Linked DNA regions of Homo sapiens. The protein of the gene in region 1 purifies or fractionates together with the protein of each later gene. This does not show direct contact. Each region holds a gene or a part of one and is shown in the gene's direction. Other genes may lie near its edges. The genes, in order: FGF1, GPC6, SDC4, PLCD3, GPC4, GSE1 and FARP1.

Region 1 (3,500 bases):
CCCCAAGTGCAGGGACCATGGCTGGCGCTGAGCGTAAGTCCCAGCACCTAGTAGATGAATATGTGTTGACTGAATGGTTTTCTGTCCCCCAACCCTGAGCTGCTACCCGAGGAAAAAGCTGCTGCTGTGTGGCCAGCCCCTCCCTCTCTTCCCAAGGCCCCACTTTCTCATGCTCTCTCCTTCCTTGCCTGTCCTCAGCAGCAGCTGCAAGAGGATGTAGGTCTGGAAAACTGGAATGAAGTCACACTAGAGAGCTGGACACCAAGCCAGCTACACAAGCCGCTCAGCCTGGGTGTTGCTCCTTCCTGCCAGCCCTACTTGCAGAAGGATATATGTTTAGGAAACTTAGCCAGAAAGAAATCTAGTGAAAATGAGCTATGAAACTTGGACATCCTGGAGAAATAATATTTACAGAGGAAACTTTTGAGACGAACTCTCACCGGCACAACAAACCTGGTGTCGGGACTCATGGCTGAGGGCTGAAGTCATGTGCTAAGCAGGCCTCTGGCTCTTGTTTACCTCTATGAGGCCTCTTCATGGCCATGATGGAACTCCACAGATGGCAAAGCCAACCCTATTCAGCCCCATGGCCAGACAAGTGGGTGCTATTGAAGGCAGCAAAACAGAAATGCATAGGAAATGAAAAGCTTTTTAAAAATCTTCTTTGATTGGCTGGGCACGGTGGCTCATGCCTGTAATCCCGGCATTTTGGGAGGCCGAGGGGGGTGGATCGCCTGAAGTCAGGAGTTTAAGACCATCCTGGCCAACATGATGAAACCCTGTCTCTACTAAAAATACAAAAAAAAAAAAAAAAAAACTAGCCAGGCATGATGGTGCGTGCCTGTAATCCCAGCTACCTGGGAAGCTGAGACAGGAGAATCGCTTGAACTGGGAGGTGGAGGTTGCAGTGAGCTGAGATCACACCACAGCACTCCAGCCTGGGCAACAGAGTGAGACTCCATCTCAAAAGAAAGAAAAAAGAAACAAACAAACAAAAAAAACTTCCTTGATTACCTAAAAAGACCTCCCCTTTGGGGTTTCTGTCGCACCTATAATGTGTTTGACTAAATATCTACATATATGGGCGATAGGTTGAAAAGAGTCCCAGGCAACTAACCTCACTCCATTCCATGGCTACAGATGGGATCCTGGATGGCCACCCACCATCTTGTCCATGTGTGATCTTGAACACAAGAGGGTCCAAGCAGGAGAGTATCGCTGGATTTGGATCAATCCATTCCCATAATTGGAGCCCAAGAGATTGTGTGAAAGACAGGAAAAAGTAGGATACTTGGAGTACTCGACCTGGGGTCTGGTCATGATTTTTCCCCTTCTTAGAAGTATAACATTGCATAAAACACACTCTCACCAAACTTCAGCTCTTCACCAAAGGACAGAGCAAGCACCACCTTCCTCCAGGGAACACTTCGAGGAGAAAAGGCCACAAAAGCACAGAGGAAACAGTCATACGAGTACTGGCCACTTTCCATGCATTAGCCCTTACAACAACTCCCACTATAGATAAGGAAACAGAGGCAAATACTTTGCCCGATGATCACACAGCTAATAGGCAGCCAAGCAGAACTTGAGTTCATGCAGTTGTGTTCTGGAGCCCACACTCTTTAATTTTATACTGTTTATATCAAGATAGAAACTAGCATGGTGCCTGGCACATTGTAGGTGATCAATAAAAGTTAGCCCCTTCCTTTGATCTCTCTTAAACATATAGGATTATGCTGAGAAATTGACACAAAAGTATATGTGAAGGTTCTCTGAAAACCATAAAGTCTGATAACCATTTAAAAAAAAACCAGCTTTATTGAGATAACACACATACCATACAATTCACCTATTTAAGTTGTACAATGCAATGGATTTTCTTACAACTTAACAGAGTTGTGCAACCAACACCACAATCCATTTTAGAATATTTTCCAAAAGAAGCCCCATGCCTTTTAACCATAATTCCCCCATCTCCACCCACCCTGGCCCTGGATACCCTGAATCTACTTGCTGTCTTTATGGATTTGCCTATTCTGGACATTTCATTTAAATGGAAACATAAAACACATGGTCCTTTGTGATGCTTTCTTCCCACTCAGCACTGTTTCCAGACTCATCTGTGTTGTGGCATGCCTCAGAACTCTGTTCCTTTTTATTGCCAAAGAATATTCTATTGGCATTCCATGTATCTACTTGCTCCATAGACTGTTAGACTGAGAAATAACTTTATGGAGACTGAGCGCAAATACCCCTCATTTTACTGAAAAAGAGACTGTGTCTAAGAGGCTATGCAGCCTAGCCAAGATCACTCAGCTCAGAGCCCAGCCTTGAGCCTTACAACTCTCCACGTGGTCCCATCTTACTGCCCCCCTCAGAGAGTTATTGGAGACATAATTCAAAGTGCACAGCTTATTGATAATGGGCCAGGAGAATCATCTCTGCCAATATTAGCCCAACACCATTCATTCACCAAATAATGTAGACTGCCCCCTGTGTGCAGGGCACTGTAGGAGGTGCTGAGGACCCCAGAGGGAACAGGACAAGATCTCTGCCCTTCCTCTCAGAGTGTACACTTTCCTGAGGAGGCAGAAATAGATCAGTAGCTCCCTAGATAATAAAATCATTGCATGTTGTACTAAGTGCCATGAAAGAAACAAGGGGCAGAGGAGGAAGAGGATGTGGGGGAGGGTGGTATTGGCAGGGAGAATGGGGTGGGGATGAAAGGACCCCGTGCGCAGAGTGTCACACACTCTGGGGAGGGCCTCTTTTAGGATATTTAGGCTGAGGCCTGGAGGAGAAGGACCTTGTGAATATCTGGAGGAAGAATGTCCCAGAGAGAAGGCTATAGCATGTGCAAAGATCCCAGGAAAACAGGGAAAGTTTGAAGTTTAATAGGAGCAGAAAGAGCGAGCAAGTGGTGTGACTGAAGGCTCGAGAGAGCAGGGCCCAGCTTACAGTGGAGGCCCATAGGCCTGTTCCCTCACGGCTACACTCTCAGAGCTAACCATTCCTAGGAGGACCCGTGAGAAAGTGCATCAGTGGCTTCCAGTTCCTTCCTGTGAATTAAATAAACTCCAGTTGCCACTGGAAGCTAGAGGAAGTCCTGAGTCTCTATAGCAAAGACTTCCAAGGAAGGGAGAATTGCATCTTAGGTAAAGGTGATGAAACTATGAATCATCCTGGGGGTGAATCAGGAGATAAGGAAGGCAAAGAGAAATAAGAAAATACAGGCATATTAACAGAGAAATGGTTAAACAATTATGGTATAGCTACATAATGGAACACAATTCAATCAGCAAGAAGAAAGAAGTTTACTCTTTCCATCCTGATGTAGAAAGATCTACAATTAGTTGTTAAGCAAAAAAAAAAGCAAGGTGCAGAACTGTGTGCTCAGTACATTACCATTAGTATGAGATAGTATGTCTTTTGCAATATACGCACACAAGCTCTCTAGAAAGGATACACACACAAGGTGTCTAGGAGGGGTTTCCTTGTTT
Region 2 (3,500 bases), on another chromosome or scaffold:
GAAAAATATGTTTTAAATGAATGTGCCAGTTAGTAGCCAAAAAAAAAAAAATCAAAATTTGGTTTCACACTTTCACATTATTCAGGTTATTGGGTATTTTAATAACCCATTCTCTCTTTCTTCTAGGCATTTTTTTCTTCATGCAATGAGTATTTATTGTATACCTACTATGGGTAAGTCATTGTACCAGGTTCTGGGGGTAGAACCCCAGGGAATTTGAATCCCAGCAGGGAAGCAGAAATTAAGGACACCATTCACAATGAATTAATTCCAACTGAGATAAATGCATAGCACTAAGGACACCTGGCACTGTGAAAGCATTTTATAGGAGCATTTGATCAAATCAGAGGCAGAATAATGGGTTCTGAAGCATGGGCGCCCTTCAGTAAGGAAGCAGGAGTGTGGAAGGGGCACAAATTTCCTGTGTGGTGAGAATACCCTGCAAACATGAGGAGGGTTCCAGTCCCTGGGGAGACTGGTCAGTGAGTGGGGAGAGGGGTGTGGGAGACTGGAGAAGGGGGCCCAAAGGTCAGGTTAATGACTTACATAGACGGAAAGAATCCAAAGGTAACCCCTGCTTCTTGACCGTAAGTTGTTCCCTTTTTCACAGCAGACCTGAACCTTTAGTTAAAAAGCCCAGTAGTGCTAAAGTCAAGTTTCTACACATCCAGTTGTTTCAAATATAGCACAAAGAAGCAGATTTTTAACCATTTAGAGCATGTTTGCCTTGTGCACTCTGTAAAACTGTACCTGTCTGCTAGCCATATGTAAGACAACCCTGGGGTGATCAAAGACTCCTAGCTGCTGCAGCCCTTAGCAGCTCTCTGGCCCTGAGGCTGTCTACCCTGTTGCTGATGACATTGCCTGGGTCATAATGCCCTTCTCCCCTGGGAGTTCCTTGACCTTCTGCCCTTTTGGGTGGTGGCCCGTTTGTTAGCCCTGCAAGGTCTCATGCTGTGAGGGACTTTCCTTCACGTGCAACCAAAGTGTCTTCCAAATTAAGCTCACTGTGTGCTACTGCCACCTGGGGGTCATGTCGTCCTCCCCCACCCCCATCAGTCCTGACATCCCTCAAACTCACTACAGTGACTTTGGCCTTTAGCCTGAGTCCCTTAACAAGCTGTTGAATAAGTGTTTTAATCAGGATTGGATACAGTTTTGAAATATTACATTGGTTGCTCTATAGAGAAAGGATTGAGGGGAAAAAACAGATACAGGAAAAGGAGGAGAGGCTAGCTAGGACTAGAGTGGTGACCATGGAAATAGGAAGGATTCAAGAAATACTTAGTAGGTGAAATGGATCAAAGTTACTTACTTAGCATCTACTATGTGACTGACAATGAATAAGGACTGGGTTGTGTGTTTGTGTATGTGTGTGTGTGAGAGAGAGAGAGAGAGAGAGTGCAAGAGAGAGAGAGGGAAGGAAGAGAGAGAAGAGAGAAGTAAGTGTCCCAGAAATGTTAATTGAATTACCATGGCAATAAAAATACTTTAGCATAGTTTTTGTGTGCTTCATAATGGAGACAAAACTCAATATCATTAAACCAGCAGAAGACTATTAACAGTATCAGTGTCACTGAGAGAAAGAGATTTCTCAAATAGGATCAGATGAATTGCTAACTCTCAAAAGTGTAGAACTATCAAAATACATGTAATCAGCTACAATTCACTATGAAATTTAAGTCACAGTACTTTCTGCTCTGTCAGTGAAAAAAAAACTTCAAATTTTTTACCCTAATGGAGAATTAATCAAATTGTGCCATAATTTCCATCAGTAATGATATTTGGTACTTAAGCTACTGACATAGCATTGTTTTAATCTAAGTACCAAATATCATTACTGATTATAATAACAACGAGAGGTTGAAGCTGAAAGGAGGAGGCAAAATTTAATTGGAGCCTTGAAGGATGGGTAGCATTTGACAAAGGGCCATGAAAGAAGGAGGCAGTTAGGGAGTAATTAAATATGTGAGCAAAATAGGGTGTGCAGAGGAGAGCACAGAAAGGAATCTGATATTGAATAGATAGGGTGGGATTGGATTTTTGGAGGGCCTTGAAAATTCTAGGCTTTATATGACAGAAAGTAGGTCATCATCTCAGGTTCTTGGCAGAGAGGTGACATGACGAAAGTATTGTTTTGGATTAGGCAAGCAGTATCACAGGATGGATTAGAGAAAAGATCATTAAAGGCCCCTGGGGAGGGAAGAAGGACAGCTAGGAGACACTTAAATTTTAGAGGCTTAGGCAGGAGATTGCCAAGGTCTCAGAGGAGGATGAGAGGAGTGAAGAAGGGGTGAATAAGGCCATGAGAGAAGGAAGAAACAAGATTAAAAGGGAAAATTTTAAAAAATTAAAAACTTCACTCTGCTGCTTAGAAATTCCAATAAAAGAGTTTAGAGGATGAGCTGTTGAAACTCTCAACTCAAGTAGTCTGTGTCAGTTAAGATACTTTTGGCAGCAGGTCACAGAAATTCCTGACTCAACTGGCTTACATAGTCAGGGCAAGCCGTTATTTCACATAACAAGAAGTCCCAGTGCAGAGTCTTGCAGGAGTGAGAAAGCTGTAAGCTTGCAGTATCAACAGGGTGCCAGGTTCTCTCTGTCTTTTGGCTCTCAGATCCTTGTTCCACCAGATCACCTCCAAATAAACACAAGATGATGGCTAGAGTTCCAGGAGCTAAGGCCTCATGACAATGCCTAGAGGCACAGAAAGAAATGATTTCTTCCCACATGTCTCTTCCTTGATGAGGCAGACAACTCTCAACAGTCCCCCAGCAGAGATGCCCACCCTTCTCATTTTAGAATTGCCTCCTATGCCTGTACCTAGAAGGGAAGGCAAAGGATATGGTCTTTCAGCTGGACCCTCAGATGGGAGCTGATGATCATAGCATGGCTTAGCTAATCTTCATTATCCTTTTTTTTGTTATTCTTTTAAATTTCAATAGCTTTAGGAGTACAAGTGGTTGTTGGTTACATGGATGAATTATATAGTAGTGAATTCTGAGCTTTTAGCGTACCTGTCACCCAAATAGTGTTCATTGAACCCAAGAGCAAATTTTTCATCCCTCACCCTCTTCCCACCCTCCCTACTTCTTAGTCTCCGGTGTCTATTATACCAGGGATCCCCAACCCCCAGGCCATGGACTGGTAATGGTGTGTGGCCTGTTAGTGACTGGGCCATACAGCAGGAGGTAACAGTAGGCAAGTGAACATCACTGCCTGCGCTCTGCCTCCTGTCGAATCAGCAGCGGCATTAGCTTTTCATAGGAGCATGAAATCTATCGTGAACTGTGCATGCGAGGGATGTAGGTTGCGTGCTCATTATGAGAATCTAATGCCTGATGGTCTGAGGTGAAACAGTTTCATATCCAAACCATCCCCACCAATCCATGGAAAAACTGTCTTTTATGAAACCATTCCCTGGTGCCAAAAAGGTTGGGGACTGCTGCATTATACCACTCTATGTGCCCCTGTGTATGCATACTTATCTCCCACTTATT
Region 3 (3,500 bases), on another chromosome or scaffold:
TTCAGTTTTCTAATCTGTAAAATGGGAATAATAAAGATAGTACATCAGTGTTGTGGGGACTGAACTGACTTAAAGCTTTTGGCACCTACCAAGCACTCAGTACGTGTGTGTTTGGTTTAAAAAAAAAATAAATTTTATGGCCGGGCACGGTGGCTCATGCCTGTAATCCCAGCACTTTGGGAGGCCAAGGCAGGCAGATCACGAGGTCAGGAGTTTGAGACCAGCCTGGCCAACATGGTGAAACCCCGTCTCTACTAAAAATACAAAAATTAGCCAGGTGTGGTGTCGAGTGCCTGTAATCCCAGCTACTTGGGAGGCTGAGGCAGGAGAATTGCTTGAACCCGGGAGGCAGAGGTTGCAGTGAGCTGAGATCACGCCATTGCACTCCAGCCTGGTGACAGAGCAAGACTCTGTCTTGAAAAAAAATAAAAATAAAAAAATAAATTTCATTATGTGCATACAACATGATATTATGGGATACATATAGATAGTAAAAATGTTACTACAGTGGAGTTAAGTAATATATCCATCATCTCACATAGTCGCCCAGGAAATGTTTTAATATTGCAGTTAGAGTTTTCTTTCTCAAAAGTTAATTCCCTGGGGATCTTGTTAAAATGTAGATTTTGGCCGGGCGCGGTGGCTTACACCTGTAATTGAAGCACTGTGGGAGGCCAAGGCAGGCGGATCACAAGGTCAAGAGATCGAGACCATCCTGGCCAACCAACATGGTGAAACCCCGTCTCTACTAAAAATACAAAAATCAGCTGGGTGTCATGGTGCACCCCTGTAGTCCCAGCTACTCGGGGGGCTGAGGCAGGAGAATCGCTTGAACCCAGGAGGCAGAGGTTGCAGTGAGCCGAGATGGCACCACGGTACTCCAGCCCAGGCGACAGAGAGAGACTCTGTCTCAAAAAAAAAAAAGTAGATTTTGATTCAGTCAGCCCTGAAATTCTACATTTCTTCTTCTTTTTTTTTTAACCAATGAATTATTTTTACTCTTTTTAAATAAGTGAAATATTAGCTTTAATGTTTTCTGATCATGACAATATTTTTAGATAAGAACATTTTAAACATTCAACAGTAAGAGACTATTGAAAATAAATGAAATTCATTGAATAGAAGTAATTAAAATAATAATGTAACTCTTTAAGCATTGTAATGGAAAGATGTTAATGATATATTGTTACGAGCCCATTATTGGGAAAAATGTATTTAGGAATACGTATGGAGGGAATTTATTTATTTATTTTTTTGAGACGGAGTCTTGTTCTGTCGCCCAGGCTGGAGTGCGGTGGTACCATCTTGGCCCACTGCAACCTCTGCCAACCGGGTTCAAGTGATTCTCCTGCCTCAGCCTCCCAAGTAGCTGGGATTACAGGCGCGTGCCATCACCCGTGGATAATTTTTGTATTTTCAGCAGAGACGGGGTTTCACTATGTTGGCCAGGCTGGTCTCGATCTCCTGACCTCAAGTGATCTGCCCGCCTTGGCCTCCCAAAATGCTGGGATTACAGGCGTGAGCCACCGCGCCTGGCCTTGAAATTCTACATTTCTAACCAGCTCTCAGGTGTTGCTATTGGTTTTTGGATCCACACTTTGCAGAGCAAGGGTTTAGAGCTGATGAAGCCTCTGCCCAGCTGCCAGCTCACACATTCCTGTGAAAGAGCCAGGGGGTGGGTCTGAGGAGCCCCATTTTACAGATGAGATGACTGAAGTAGGGGTGGGGAAGCTCGCTTGCTGGACATTGAGCATTTGGAAGCTGGTTGTAAGGTGGAGCTCCCACCAGTCCTGGCTGAAGGGGTCATTTTCCTGGGGTAATGGACCTCACTCACACAGCTATTCTGACCTTACAGATGACTTGGAAGACTCCATGATCGGCCCTGAAGTTGTCCATCCCTTGGTAAGTAGCTACATGCTTCTGCCTCTTCCACTTTGCTCCTCTATAGCAGACCTATTGGGAGAGGCAGAAAATACAGCCCCCATAGGCAGAATAAGTGAGGGGTCTTACCCCACTATGCGGGAAGGCTTTTTAAAAATCTGGCCCTGGGGTGGGCATGGTGGCTCAGGCCTGTAATCCCAGCACTTTGGGAGGCTTGAGGTCAGGAGTTCAAGACCAGCCTGGGCAACACGATGAAACCTGTCTCTACATAAAATACAAAAATTAGCCAGGTGTGGTGGCATGTGCCTGTAGTCCCAGCTACTTGAGAGGCTGAGGTGGGAGAATGGCTTAAGTCCAGGAGGCAGAGGTTGCAGTGAGCCAAGATTGTGCCAGTGCACTCCAGCCTGGGTGACAGAGCCAGACTGTGTTAAAACAAACAAACAAACAAACAAATCTGGCCCCAGGCTCATTTTGTAGGTTGCTGGTAGGCCATCCTCCCTGCAGGGATAGTCACCGTCAACACCAACTCCTTTTCTCTACATTTATAGCTATTTCCTAGCATTGATAGAAAAGTATATATATAGGCCGGGCACAGTGGCTAATGCCTGTAATCCCAGCACTTTGGGAGGCTAAGACGGGCAGATCACCTGAGGTCAGGAGTTCGAGACCAGCCTGGCCAACATGGTGAAACCCTATCTCTACTAAAAATACAAAAAATTAGCCTGGCACAGTGGCGTGCGCCTGTAGTCCCAGCTACTTGATTGGGAGGCTGAGGTAGGAGGATCGCTTGAACCTGAGAGGCAGAGATTGCAGTGGGCAGAGATTGCACCATTGCACCCCAGCCTGGGCGACAGAGACTCCCTCTCAAAAAAAAAAAAAAAAAGTATATATATATAATTCTATGAACTGCGTTTTTCACTTAGACTGGTCATGAGTATTTCCCTGCATAATTTAATGCTCTTGTCATTTTTATAGGCTGCGTAATAGTTTACCTGATTCCCTTTATTGACGGAAAAATGGCTTATAATTTGTTAACATTTTAAAATTATAACACTGCAGCAAACATCTTTTTTATTTTTGCAAAGCAATAACAAGTTTATTAAGAAAGTAAAGGAATAAAAGAATGGCTACTCCATAGGTAGAGCAGTGGCATTGGCTGCTGGTTGCCCATTTTTATGGTTATTTCTTGATTATATGTTAAGCAAGGGGTAGATTATTCATGAGTTTTCCAACAAAGGGGTGGGCAATTCCCAGAACTAGGGGCTCCTCCCCTTTTTAGACCATATAGAGTAACTTCCTGACTTTGCCAGGGCATTTGTAAATTGCCATGGCACTGATGGGAGTGTCTCTTAGCATGCTAATGTAGTATAATTAGCATATAATGAGCAGTGAGACCAACAGTTTCATTGCCATCCTGTTTTTGGTGGTTTTTGGCAAGCTTCTTTATTGCAACCTGTTTTATCAGCAAGGTCTTTATGACCTGTATCTTGTGCAGACCTCCTATCTCATTCTGTTACGTAGGATGCTTAACTTACTGGGAATGCGGCCCAGCAGGTCTCAGCCTTATTTTACCCAGCCCCTATTCAAGATGTAGGCACTCTGGTTCAAACACCTGACAT
Region 4 (3,500 bases), on another chromosome or scaffold:
CAGTGCAGGGCCAAAGGTCAGAGGCGCTGGACCCCGACCTCCAGAGCCCAAAGTGGCTTCTACCAGTATGGAATTCTGACAACTTACTTAAGCTTCCCTGAGCCTCAGTTTCCTTGTCTATTAGTACATGAGCAGGGCCTGCACACAGGAGATGCTTTTATTTATTTATTTTTTAGAGACAGAGTCTCACTCTGTTGCCCAAGCTGGAGTGCAGTGGCGCAATCTTGGCTCACTGCAACCTCCGCCTCCCGGATTCAAGTGATTCTCATGCCTCAGCCTCCCATGCCTGGAGATCAGCTGGGCAGGGCTGATCCTGGAGTCCTTGGCCTGTGACCCTGGAGCCAGGGTGGCCTCTGCTGTCCTCCTTGTCTTTGGGAAAGCAGAGGCAAGGTGCTTGGGTTACAGCAAGAGAGATCTAGGTTAGATGGTGAGACCTTCCTGATGGCTACGGTTTCACATCAAGGGAAAAAGGCTGTTGGTGGCAAATTCTGGACTTGAAGGCTGGAAGCCATGTGGTGGGGGATAGTGGCAGAAAAGGCAATTTTTTTTTTTTTTTGTTAAGACGCAGTCTCACTCTGTCGCTTAGGCTGCAGTGCAGTGGCACAATCTTGGCTCATGGCAACCTCAGCCTCCTAAGTAGCTGGGATTACAGGCATGTGCCACCACACCCAGCTAATTTTGTATTTTTAGTAGAGGTGGGGTTGCACCATGTTGGCCAGGCTGGTCTCGAACTCCCGACCTCAAGTGATCCACCCACCTCGGCCTCCCAAGTGCTGAGATTATAGGCGTGAGCCACCGCGCCCTGCCAGAAAGGGCAACCTTTAGTGAGGCCTGAGTCCCAGGCATTGTCCGAGGGCAGTTCCACACTGAGGGACTGCAGAGGCCGCTGCTTGGAAGGAAGGAGGGAGATGGGGTACGGGTTGGGGGGCGTTTAGGGCTCCAAAGCCTAAAGCCAAACCCAGTGCAGGAGGCTTCTTACAATCGGGGAGGAGGGGAGTCCTGTGAGGGGGAGGGAAGCTTACTGTGGGATGAAGGCCTGGGTTTGGAGAGGCTGGAGGATGGGGCAGCAGGTCCTAGCGGGGGAGGGCAGGGGAGCCTCTGGGCAGGTACGGCCTGACGCCCCGGGTCCTCCCGCCCCGCCAGGCCTGACGGAGGACGAGGACGTGCGCGCCATGCTGCGGGGCTCCCGGCTCCGCAAGATCCGCTCGCGCACGTGGCACAAGGAGCGGCTGTACCGGCTGCAGGAGGACGGCCTGAGCGTGTGGTTCCAGCGGCGCATCCCGCGTGCGCCATCGCAGCACATCTGTGAGAGGCCGGGGAGCGCCGGGCGGACAGGGAGGTGGGGACAGGCCCGGTCCTCCGCCCTGACCCGGCCCTCCTCTCAGTCTTCGTGCAGCACATCGAGGCGGTCCGCGAGGGCCACCAGTCCGAGGGCCTGCGGCGCTTCGGGGGTGCCTTCGCGCCAGCGCGCTGCCTCACCATCGCCTTCAAGGGCCGCCGCAAGAACCTGGACCTGGCGGCGCCCACGGCTGAGGAAGCGCAGCGCTGGGTGCGCGGTCTGACCAAGCTCCGCGCGCGCCTGGACGCCATGAGCCAGCGCGAGCGGCTAGACCAATATCCTGCCGGGGCTGGGAGGGAGGGCCCCATCCTTGGAGAGCCCTAACCTTGGAGAGCCCCATCCTTGGAGAGCCCCCACGCCCAGGGAAGGCAGGGCCCTGTCCTGAGGGCGCACGGTCTGGGTCGGAGCCCTTGGTCTTCGAAACTGAGGGTGGGGACACGCGCCCTGGCTAGGCCCAAGCTCCCACCAGGAGGGGTGGCGCGGCGCCTCCTTCAGGGAGGCCTGAGGCCTTCTGAGGGTGAAGACAGGGCCTCCTGTCTTTGGTAAGCCCCAGTCCTGCGGAGGAGACACTGCTACCGTGCTCGGGGAGTGCACAGGCCAAGGGGAAAGTACAGCCCCTAAACTGGGGATCCCCCAGACCCAGGTGGGGGTGACTTACCAGCCAGTTACCTGAGGGCTGGGGGCAGCCTGGCGTGTTGCTGTTATTTCCTGAGCACCCACACCTGGATCCACTCCTATCTGCACCGGGCTGACTCCAACCAGGACAGCAAGATGAGCTTCAAGGAGATCAAGAGCCTGCTGAGAATGGTCAACGTGGACATGAACGACATGTACGCCTACCTCCTCTTCAAGGTGGGCTTCCGCCCTGAACCCCAGCCCCTGGCTCTGCCATCACTCTGACCTCTGCCTGCCCCCAGCCATCTGAATCATCAGCTCCCCTGCCCTCTCCACCTGCAGCTTTTTTGGAGCGAGCAGCCTTTCCCTGCACAAAGGCAACATCTGGGGTTAGTTAGCCTTTTGCCTCCCCTGAGGCCACTGGGCCAGGAAGGGAGTGGGGAGCCGGGGCCCAGAACTTTCCTCATCCTCAGTTCCTACCCCTCCAAAGTGAGCAGCAAAGCTGTTTTCATTTCCCTGAGTCTGCAAGGCACCTTTTGCACGTGGGGGCACAGGCAGGAGCCAGCCTACAGGTGTGCATGTGCACGGATACACGTGTGCACCCTTCTCCACGCAGACCCTCCACTGTGGCACGTGTTGGCACCTCATGCATGGGAGCACAGGGGCACACAGGAGTGGGCTCTGCAGCTATGGCCCAGCTGGAGCCCATGGCAGACCTCTGTGTGCATGTGGATGGTGGGACCCACCTGTGACCCCGAAAGACAGGAGAGCCCATGGCAGCTGGACCCCTGGGCCACAGCTTCACAGGGATGCTCCATGAATTCTCATTGACTTGTTCAATGATGCTGGGTGTGAATATGTGCATGTCAGGATAGTAACGTGTCCACCTAGGGGAGTGTGAGGGCCCAAGGGCCCTGTCTTGGCCCAGGGTCACCATTTTTCCTTCCACATCTTGATTCCTGGGGTAGGTCATGGTGCAGAGGGGCAGGCACTGAACCAGAGAGACCTTTTAAGTCCAGCCCTGCCGGCCAGGCTCAGTGGCTCACCCCTGTCATCCCAGCACTTTGAGAGGCCTAGGCGGGAGGATTGCTTGAAGCCAGGAGTTTGAGATCAGCTTGGGCAACACAGCAAGACCCCATCTCTACAAAAAATACAAAAATTAGCCAGGTGCAGTGGTGCACACCAGTGGTCCCAGCTGTCCAGCTATTTGGAAGGCTGAGGTGGGAGGATCACTTGAGATCACGCGTTGGAAGCTGCAGTGAGCTATGATCATGCCACTGCGCTCCAGCCTGGGTAACAGAGCAAGACCAAACAAACAAACAAACCTAAAAAACAAACCAAAAAATCCTGCCCTGTAATTTACCAGCTGTGTGAGCTAGAGTCACAAGTCTTACTCTGTTTTTCCACCTGTGAAATGGGGACCATTGCCTTCTCAGATGTGGTAGATGACAGATGGGTCAAAGGGGCCAGGTTTCCTGGAGTGTCTGCCTCCTCTGAGCTTCTCCTGCTGCTCCCCAGGAGTGTGACCACTCCAACAACGACCGTC
Region 5 (3,500 bases), on another chromosome or scaffold:
TTCATTTGTTATTACTGTTTTAAAAATTGCATTTCATGGAAATCTATTTGTGGTTTGTGACATCGGAATTGTAGTTTAGAGAAATGACCCCGTGCATTAAAATGTTGTGTAGCATTTGTTCTAGGTTGAAGGTGAAAGCTTGATGACTAGATTTGGTTTCATTGATATGCTGATGCCTATGCTGCTTTCCACTAGAAAGCTTAGATAGAAGCTCAGCTGGGGGCTGCAATTGTCAGCTGTGTTCTTTGGGTAGGACACAATCTTCCGGGAACTAGCTCTTCTTTCAAGTAACCATCCTTGCACTACCTGAAGATGATAGATAATGTGGGTCTAACTCCTTTCTTGCCATGCACTAAGCACTAGAGTGTAAAGGGGGGATAAACAAGTTTAAAAGTTCACTGTTTGTCGTTAATGAAGCATCCTTTTTGTCATTTGGGGTTTTCATTTCCAAGTTCTTCTAATTTTGTAAAACAGGTAGCAGGCAAAAATACTAAGCCTCATAATCCTAAGAAACATATATGGCAAGAAAACAAAGACAATGTATTTTATTGAAGCGATTCAGTGCTTACTGGAAAATGCCATGCTACTCCAGAGTCTAAAGCAGGATAATCGGTGAAGATATATACTGTGAGCCCACTAATTTTGTGTACTGTATCTTGTGTCATCTTCTCACTTGCAAAAAAAAGGAGGTACATGCCTTAAGATAAATTGAAGCCATTGTATTTGCAATGAGAAGTTTTTCTTAATACAAAAATTGGATTATTCAAAGTTTTAGTATTTGAAAAGTCATTAGAATTCCTAGGAACCCTTTCATTTGTATTATCCAACGGTGCACTCAAGGATCTGAGGGGTTTTGTTTTTAAAAACAAAAGAAAAGAATTAATATGCCAGCATCTTAACTGATTTATGTTTTTGACTCTTGTAAATGGAATGTGAAACGAGAAGATCCTAGGGAAGTCTCTGGGAGAGCTGGCATGTTATTTTGTCTCCAGCCTTAGGTTTGTCATCTGGGAGCTAACTAAGAGCCTTACAGTGACAGTGGCTGACACACGAATAATCAGTATTGAGGAAAGTTCCTGATTGGGTTTCCTTGCTGTAGAACTAAGCCTTCATCTGGCCATTTCACACTTTAGAGAGCTAGTGATACATAGTGACTAAATGCAGTTTGGTGTAAGGGAAATAGACATAAAAACAAGAATTCATTATGATCCATGCCTTACTTCCCCTGCCCCCATGCAGGAAACAGACAGAAAAAAAAATCAGATTGATTTACCCAAGGCCAAACTAATGATTGACTTTTTATGCTGTATTGTTCTTCCCCAAACCTCATATTAGATGCTATGCTGATGGTGGCAGAGAGGCTAGAGGGTCCTTTCAACATTGAATCGGTCATGGATCCCATCGATGTGAAGATTTCTGATGCTATTATGAACATGCAGGATAATAGTGTTCAAGTGTCTCAGAAGGTAATGAAGGCAGGATGCTGGAAAGGGGAGCTAGGGACCTCCCCCGCCTCCGCCTCCCGCCTTGGGAGTGACTTCCCTAACATGACGACACTTACTCTAATGCAGGTTTTCCAGGGATGTGGACCCCCCAAGCCCCTCCCAGCTGGACGAATTTCTCGTTCCATCTCTGAAAGTGCCTTCAGTGCTCGCTTCAGACCACATCACCCCGAGGAACGCCCAACCACAGCAGCTGGCACTAGTTTGGACCGACTGGTGAGCGTTTTGGCAGGAAGGGCCGTGTTTAATGACAAAGAACTGAAAACTCTTGCTCAAAATGAATTTTTAGCTGGAAGGCTAACAAGTGTGGGTCTTTCAGGTGTCACTTTTCAAGCAAATAGGATGTGGATGTCAGTCAATCTGCCTGTCCCATTTTCTAGCCCAGAAAGTTCTTGGGTAGCCAAGGAGTTATGATGCAATAAGTCTTGTCTCAAAATTTCTCTTTAGATTCACCATGCATTTATTGAACATCTACTATGTGCCCATCACTGTGCTAGGCATAGAGAAGCTCAGAGAAATAAGGCAGATCCTTGTTCTCAAAAGGCACCAACAAGGAGGCAAAGAGGGAGAAGTAGATGTTCCAGGCTTATTAACATAAAATGATGTTTAGTAAAAGCTGAGATGGGAGAAAAGTGAGTAACTGTAGGCAAATTGCTTTATCCACAGTAATATGCTACAAAAATGTAAGAAACTATTCCTACAGTAGTAGGAACACAGAAGAGGGAGCCTGAGGAGACAGGGATGGAGAGAAAGAGCAATAGCAGCTATGTTTCACAGAGTGCATAATATACATGCTTGATCCTGACTCTAAAAGCCTTAGGAGAAGAGACTGCATGTTATCTTTGTGCCTACAGGGCATGGAGACTGGTAGGCCTCAGATGGTACTTACAATGAGGTGGGCAAGGGGTCTAGGCCACTCCTTTGGAGCTTGCATTTCAACTATTATTTGAGTGGTTTTGTACTTCTAAGATATAAATTGGAGTTGCATCTTCCTCTTCTAATTAAAGTTGAAAATGAATTGCATATCACTCTGGAGATACTTTGGAAATGGCCAGAAGGCACACTTGTAGGTAGTTTTGTCTTGTCTTACAATGATCTTTTTTTGTTGTTGTTGTTTCATAATTAGGTTACTGATGTCAAGGAGAAACTGAAACAGGCCAAGAAATTCTGGTCCTCCCTTCCGAGCAACGTTTGCAACGATGAGAGGATGGCTGCAGGAAACGGCAATGAGGATGACTGTTGGAATGGGAAAGGCAAAAGCAGGTTAGTGTCTGTTGAATGAATTTGAAGTTTCTCCCTTCCTAGATGCCTGGGTGACCTTCAGAGAGGGTTCTCTCAATTGTCAACCGAGGCATCAGGAAGCAATTCACAGTAGGTAGCAACAACATGGAAGGCTTCTAGGTGTTCTTAGGAACAGGCTTTGCACTAGGAGTGTTGAGAAGGCACCCAGTTACTTACAAAGAGTGCTGAGTCAAAAGTTTGACAGTAGTTATAGTCTCGTATTAGGGCTGTTCCAATAGTGTCATTATTTTTAAAATATTTAATGCCTGTGGCTCTTTGTCCAATGGCCTAGCCTCATAAATAACCAGTTCTCAAAGGTTCCATTCTCTGACTTGATGCCCTGTGTCCCTCCCTTAGACGCTCAGTAACTTAGAGAAGTACCCATACTTTTTTTTGTTTGCTTGTTTGAGATGGAGTCTCGCTCTTTTGCCCAAGCTGGAGTGTAGTGGCACAATCTCGGCTCACTGCAACCTCCACCTCCCGGGTTCAAGTGATTCTCCTGCCTCAGTCTCCTGAGTAGCTAGGACTACAGGTGCCTGCCACCATGCCTGGCTAATTTTTTTTTTTTTGTATTTTTAGTAGTGACAGGGTTTCACCATGTTAGCCAGGATGGTCTTGATCTCCTGACCTTGTGATCCGCCTGCCTCAGCCTCCCAAAGTGCTGGGATTACAGGTGTGAGCCACCGCACCCAGCCAGTACCCATACTTCTTTACTTC
Region 6 (2,189 bases), on another chromosome or scaffold:
TTCCATCCAGCATGTTTGTACTCTACATGCTTGTCCTTACAGAGGAAACGGGTTGGTTTTGACACAAATTTCCCTCTCTCCAGGAGTTGAGGAGCCAGAAACAGAAGATGGTCTCAGAAAGGGAGCGGCTCCAGGCAGAACTGGACCACTTACGAAAGTGCCTTGCCTTGCCTGCAATGCACTGGCCTAGGGGCTACCTGAAGGGATATCCCAGGTGACGGTTTCCCTTGCACTAGGCCGAACCTATAGTATAGAAATATTATCTATTTTATTACCTTGAATATTTAATATTTTTCACTGGGAGGTTTGAAGCTTACAAAATGAGAATGTGCCATGCATGAAGCAAAGGATTCCAGGCTCCAGAAAAAATGAATGAACTCACCTTGACGTCAATGCAATTGAATCACCGTTGTCATTCAGCGAGCAACCAATGTAGGATTGCCCACAGTTTTTCTTTTTAAAGGTGGTTTTCGCCCTTCCTCTCCCACATTATTTCTTAATCTGAACATGAAGGCTCCATTAGCAACACTAAAACTTGATCATTAACAGCCCCCTGTGCATATGAGTGGATCAAACCGGTTCTGTTCTTTCTTGTGTTGCCATGTTACTATGCCTCAAGCCCAGTTTGCTTTTGCCGCAGCGATGGGGCCAGTCTCATTCCTCCCCAGGAGTGAAACTTGCTTCAGCTGAAAAGGTTGGGTGCATTGTCAGTAAAAAGGGCTTATTTGTTTCATTTTACTTTCCTGCAAAATTTTCTTCAAAGCAACAAGTCCTAGGAGCACACAAAGCAACCCAAAGGCTTTTCCCTGGAAAAGCTCTTTCTTACCTAAAGATAAAACCAATTCACAAACTGAAGGTAGCTTTTTATTACTCCGTGGGGAGCATGTACAGAGCTCTGTGTATACACAGCTTCACACCCACCAGATTGTTACTACAGTGGGTTGGGTTTTCATACAGACGTAAATTTTGAGAGAAAAGTCAAAGGTGCTTCAGCCTTGTACTGTGTATATATATTAAAAAAAAAACAAAGTTTTGTATGTTTTTATTACTTTAACTATTGTTATAAAAAGCCTGCCATTTTTAATATGTGGTTTGGGGGATTTTTGTTTGTTTTTCCTGTTTGGGGGTTTTGTTTGTTGTTTTGGTTTTTTTTGGGCAAAAAAAAAAAAAAAACCTTGCTTTTAGTGTTTGTACTGCTGCTGGTCAGGACATTAAAATATTGAAGTGTTTTTAAAAATTAAAGAAGAAGAAAAGTAAAAGAGCTTACCACTGGCGCCTATGCGATCACTTCATTTTTAGTTTGAGTTGCACCAGAAGCTGCCGTAGAAAGCCATGCGCTACTGCTTACCTCCTCCACTCCCCCTGCCTGCCCCCAGCATCTGGACAAGCTAATAGCAAATATTACCCATTGCTATCAAGGGAGGAGGGGGTAGTCTGTAGAACCCATGTGTGACAGTCATGTGCACACATGGGCGGGGGCTTTTAAAAACCTTTCAGGAAGTCAATGATTTCTGTGATTGATATAATTCTAAGGTGTCTGAGAGCAGGTACAGAATAGGAACTTCAGAGGCTTTGTTTAAACGCAAAGCTTTGTAAAAGCCACAAGGTCTGAGCTGAACCCCTCCTTTTTGAACTTACTGTGACAAGCACAGGAACGGTCAGAAACTGGGCTCATCACACCAAGGCAAAGCAACGGGCGAGTCTTCCTCCTTGTCCTAGTTACTGCCTATGGAGGCAGTGTTTAGATCAAGAAGGCCTCTCTTGCTCCCAAGGGCCCTCACCAGAGGCCAGGGCTGCCAGTCACTGGTCTGGGGGGTGGAGGCCTGAGCTGAGGGCAGGGTGCCTGACCTGTGTGCCGGCTGCTCACTGCTGTGACCAGCAGCCGAGCCCTTGGCCCTAGCCCTTGCTGCGCAGAACAGCTTGCTGGCAGCTGGCATCGTGTCGCTTTATCTGCCCCCGCACAGTTTGCTTTGTACGTCTGCCAAGAATCTTCCAGTTATTAGCAAACTCAGACGAATGTACCGCCAGTATTATCAGCAGTCAACAAGCACCTTCCTCTCCACAGAAGCAGCTGGAAGAGAACTCGAGGGGCTGTGCTGCAGGCCTCCCCTCGAAAGACACTGGGAGGTCAGCATGTTCCACAGGTGTTCAGAGGGAGTCTGCTACAAACTATCAGGGCAAAATCTCAC
Region 7 (3,500 bases), on another chromosome or scaffold:
GTAGAATTTACTGCCAAGAACCTCCCCAGGCGGATGGGGAGAAAAGAAAAACCGGGAGCAGGTATGGCTGAAGATGGATGATTCTGAGGCTTTTTTTTTTGTAGGGGGGCGGGGGGGAACATGGAGTCTTGCTCTGTCGCCCAGGCTAGAGTGCAGTGGCACGATCTTGGCTCACTGCAACCTCCACCTCCCGGGTTCAAGCAGTTCTCCTGCCTCAGCCTCCCAGGTCGCTGGGATTACAGGTGCCCGCCACCGTACCCAGCCAATTTTTGTATTTTTGGTAGAGACGAGGTTTCGCCATGTTGCCCAGGCTGATCTCGAACTCCTGACCTCAAGTGATCCACCCGTCCTGGACTCCCAAAGTGCTGAGATTACAGGCATGAGCTACTGTGCCTGACCTTGAAGCTTCTTTCTGACTGATAGAGATGAGGAGGGGAGAAAACTGTCTTCTCACATCACCACAATTGATAAATGTATCCTGGCATCCCGTCTCTGAGATCTGGCCCTTCTGATGTTCCCCACCAACTGGGCTCACCTTATGTTGTCTGCTAGCTTCTGTTTGGCTCACTGGGGAATATTGACAAACTGGGAAGTGTCATTCCTACGTGACCTGTTTTTCTTTCTGTTTCTTTTTAGCTGAGATTGGGGATTTTGATGAAGCCTTGGACAGAGAGCACTTAGCAAAAAATAAATACATACCTCAGCAAGACGCACTAGAGGACAAAATCGTGGAATTTCACCATAACCACATGTAAGTCTCATTCTTGGCTTCATATTCCCTCTGAGCCGGTTCTCTCTGCCTCCAACCTACATGGGTGTACATCCCTCCACCCCCCACACAAACTATTGTGGAGAACAACACAAAGCGTGAGGAAAGAAGATCACAGAGGCTCATTGGGATGTGGTGATTCATCCTGGGCTCTCAGAAGCACAGGTCACCCACTGAAGCCTGGAGTTTAAGGATGCCCATGCTTTGGAACAAAAGAGAAAGTAAGAGCAAAGGACCATCCAGTCATCAAGCTAATGACAAATTGGGAAAGGGACGTGGTCACCTAGGGACAAGGTCAGAGTATCGTGAAAATCCAGAACCTTCATAGCATCTGCATTTTTGTTTTTGTTTGGATTAATATTTTCAAAGGACTCATGGTACTTTTGGTTGTTGTTTTAAGGAAGCATTGGAGCCTGACGGCCATGTGAAAAAGTGTTCTCTTGAACTTTGCTTGCAGGTTTAGGTTATTGAAAGCAACTAAAATCTTGTTTTAACCCAGTGGTGTTTTGCTTTTATATGAGCTTAAAGGAAACTCTTTGAGATTCCAAAAAAAACAAAAAAAACAAAAACTGGCTGAGTTTGGAGACTTTTGGGGTTTTATGTTCCATGAGCAGTGGAGGTTTTGTCCTAGCTGCTAGACTTTGGGTTACAGTGAATGGGAGATTGGGTGTCATCTGATCGGGTAGCCCCAGTGTTTGTGATGAAATGCCTTTGTATTTCCCAGGAGAAGCTTCTTAATCTCAAATTAATAGATACAGGGAATTCAAATCTCCTGGCCTTTCTGTTTAATTTTTGTTTTGTCAGTGGACAAACACCAGCAGAATCAGATTTCCAGCTCCTAGAGATTGCCCGTCGGCTAGAGATGTATGGAATCCGGTTGCACCCGGCCAAGGACAGGGAAGGCACGAAGATCAATCTGGCCGTTGCCAACACGGGAATTCTAGTGTTTCAGGTGAGAGCCTTGAGAACACGGCCTGGTTCCCTTGGTGACAGAGAGAGAAGAGCTGGCCCTTCAACTCTGATTCATATTCAGTGGGCTAAGACCTCTGATGGTTATTTTTCGGCGAACAAAGAAAAATTAACCTCATCTCAGGCTTTCTGTTTCCCAGGCCCTCAGCTCCCAGATTCTATTTCACTTACCTTTGCCCTGTTTGGGGAATCCACATTACAGATTTGTTTGGTTTTATTGACTTTGTAGCATCACAGAAACATGTAGCTCTCCATGGACCTACACTTAGAACACAGTCTAATGGAATCGAGATTTTAGGTCCCCGAATAAACACCTTTTTCACACTTACAGATGATACTTTGCTGTAATGTGATCCTTTTTTTTTTTTTTTTTTTTTCAAACACAGTTTGGCTTGAGCCAGCTTATTTGGTCGGGACTTCAGATATACTTAAAGAGTGTTAGGCACACTTTTAAGATACAGCAGTTTTATAAATTCATAAAAGCCACATTCTTGCAATTTTGTAGCAAAACACATACTGCACTTGAATTCTTACTTGTATTCTACTTAAAGACATAATGATTCTCTGCACTCTAAAATGTGTGCTCTATTGATCATTCTGCTATTGGACTGTTTCATTGATCAATGCTTCTCTCTTAGTAGCCTTATTGAAGTATTGTTGACGTACAATAAAGTGCACACACTTGAAGTGCATAGTTTGATAGGTTTTTATTATATATATGTATATCCTGTAAAATTCCCCACAAAACCAACAGAATGAACGTATTCATCACCCCCAAAAGGCTGTTCAGTACATTCCTTTTCAACACAAGTGGGTAACCTGTGCTTTTAGTTTCAAAGGGATATAGAGAAAGCACCCGCCTTTCTCATGAAATAGGATCAGATTTCACCCAGTTAGGAAGTTGTAAATATGTTCAGGACCTAAAACCCTTTATTGAGCTCTTCCAGGTTTGCTTATATTTCCCCCTTATCTTTTATCAAAAGAGTTCCAGTGATTCTCTATTCATGCACCAGAAGTTTATGACAGCATAATTATTACAAATCACATCCCAAGAAGAGTTAAGTTGGCTTCCTGCCAGGTAGTAGGGAGTGACATTGTGAGAGCAGTGTGGTATTCAAGGCGGATTTTTTCTTGACAGTTTTTGACCTGCACGCATAGCCTCTGAGTATCGGATAAGAGAAACAATAGGCCGGGCGCGGTCGCTCACACCTGTAATCCCAACACTTTGGGAGGCTGAGACGGGTGGATCACCTGAGGTCAGGAGTTCGAGACTAGCCTGGTCAACATGGTGAAACCCCGTCTCTACTAAAAATACAAAAATTAGCTGGGCATGATGGCGTGTACCTGTAATCCCAGCTACTTGGAAGGCTGAGGCAGGAGAATCGCTTGAATTTGGGAAGCAGAGGTTGCAGTGAGCCAAGATCATACGACTGCCCTCCAGCCTGGGTGACAGAGCAAGACTGTCTCAAAAAGAAAAACAATAAAGCCAAGTGGAGTTTTGAGTACTATCATTAAATTTCAAATCACAATCCTGAACCATTTCTAAAAAGTATTAAGAAGGAAAAGAAGTGTCTCACAATTGAATTAATGTGCTTTGATTGTGTTTGACACAATCCCTAAGTATTGGGAATACCTGGGTAATGTAGTCACGTGCAAAGCCTGTGTCTCGGAACCCACCTTCTTGCCAGTGCCCTATTGCTTCATTCTTGCCACGTTAAATGAACAGGCCTGGTGTTCCAGTGGGCTCCAGAGGAATTCTAAT

Evidence for each region.
Region 2: the proteins of FGF1 (region 1) and GPC6 purify together in Homo sapiens (affinity purification with mass spectrometry, with the first as the bait; one large-scale study listed by BioGRID). This does not show direct contact.
Region 3: the proteins of FGF1 (region 1) and SDC4 purify together in Homo sapiens (affinity purification with mass spectrometry; 3 studies listed by BioGRID and IntAct, with this or other methods). This does not show direct contact.
Region 4: the proteins of FGF1 (region 1) and PLCD3 purify together in Homo sapiens (affinity purification with mass spectrometry; one large-scale study listed by BioGRID and IntAct). This does not show direct contact.
Region 5: the proteins of FGF1 (region 1) and GPC4 purify together in Homo sapiens (affinity purification with mass spectrometry; one large-scale study listed by BioGRID and IntAct). This does not show direct contact.
Region 6: the proteins of FGF1 (region 1) and GSE1 purify together in Homo sapiens (affinity purification with mass spectrometry; 3 studies listed by BioGRID and IntAct, with this or other methods). This does not show direct contact.
Region 7: the proteins of FGF1 (region 1) and FARP1 purify together in Homo sapiens (affinity purification with mass spectrometry; one large-scale study listed by BioGRID and IntAct). This does not show direct contact.

What each region holds. Positions count from the first base shown.
Region 1 is NC_000005.10:142,602,591-142,606,090, reverse strand, and holds part of FGF1 (fibroblast growth factor 1 isoform 1 precursor), read left to right. Parts: intron 1-3,500. UniProt on the Homo sapiens protein: Plays an important role in the regulation of cell survival, cell division, angiogenesis, cell differentiation and cell migration. Functions as a potent mitogen in vitro. Acts as a ligand for FGFR1 and integrins.
Region 2 is NC_000013.11:93,233,307-93,236,806, forward strand, and holds part of GPC6 (glypican-6 precursor), read left to right. Parts: intron 1-3,500. UniProt on the Homo sapiens protein: Cell surface proteoglycan that bears heparan sulfate. Putative cell surface coreceptor for growth factors, extracellular matrix proteins, proteases and anti-proteases. Enhances migration and invasion of cancer cells through WNT5A signaling.
Region 3 is NC_000020.11:45,331,425-45,334,924, reverse strand, and holds part of SDC4 (syndecan-4 precursor), read left to right. Parts: intron 1-1,855; coding exon 1,856-1,902; intron 1,903-3,500. UniProt on the Homo sapiens protein: Cell surface proteoglycan which regulates exosome biogenesis in concert with SDCBP and PDCD6IP.
Region 4 is NC_000017.11:45,119,016-45,122,515, reverse strand, and holds part of PLCD3 (1-phosphatidylinositol 4,5-bisphosphate phosphodiesterase delta-3), read left to right. Parts: intron 1-1,143; coding exon 1,144-1,305; intron 1,306-1,385; coding exon 1,386-1,614; intron 1,615-2,061; coding exon 2,062-2,191; intron 2,192-3,472; coding exon 3,473-3,500. UniProt on the Homo sapiens protein: Hydrolyzes the phosphatidylinositol 4,5-bisphosphate (PIP2) to generate 2 second messenger molecules diacylglycerol (DAG) and inositol 1,4,5-trisphosphate (IP3).
Region 5 is NC_000023.11:133,303,990-133,307,489, reverse strand, and holds part of GPC4 (glypican-4 precursor), read left to right. Parts: intron 1-1,335; coding exon 1,336-1,466; intron 1,467-1,571; coding exon 1,572-1,718; intron 1,719-2,628; coding exon 2,629-2,765; intron 2,766-3,500. UniProt on the Homo sapiens protein: Cell surface proteoglycan that bears heparan sulfate. May be involved in the development of kidney tubules and of the central nervous system.
Region 6 is NC_000016.10:85,672,322-85,674,510, forward strand, and holds part of GSE1 (genetic suppressor element 1), read left to right. Parts: intron 1-83; coding exon 84-218; 3' UTR 219-2,189.
Region 7 is NC_000013.11:98,384,094-98,387,593, forward strand, and holds part of FARP1 (FERM, ARHGEF and pleckstrin domain-containing protein 1), read left to right. Parts: intron 1-636; coding exon 637-751; intron 752-1,573; coding exon 1,574-1,721; intron 1,722-3,500. UniProt on the Homo sapiens protein: Functions as a guanine nucleotide exchange factor for RAC1. May play a role in semaphorin signaling.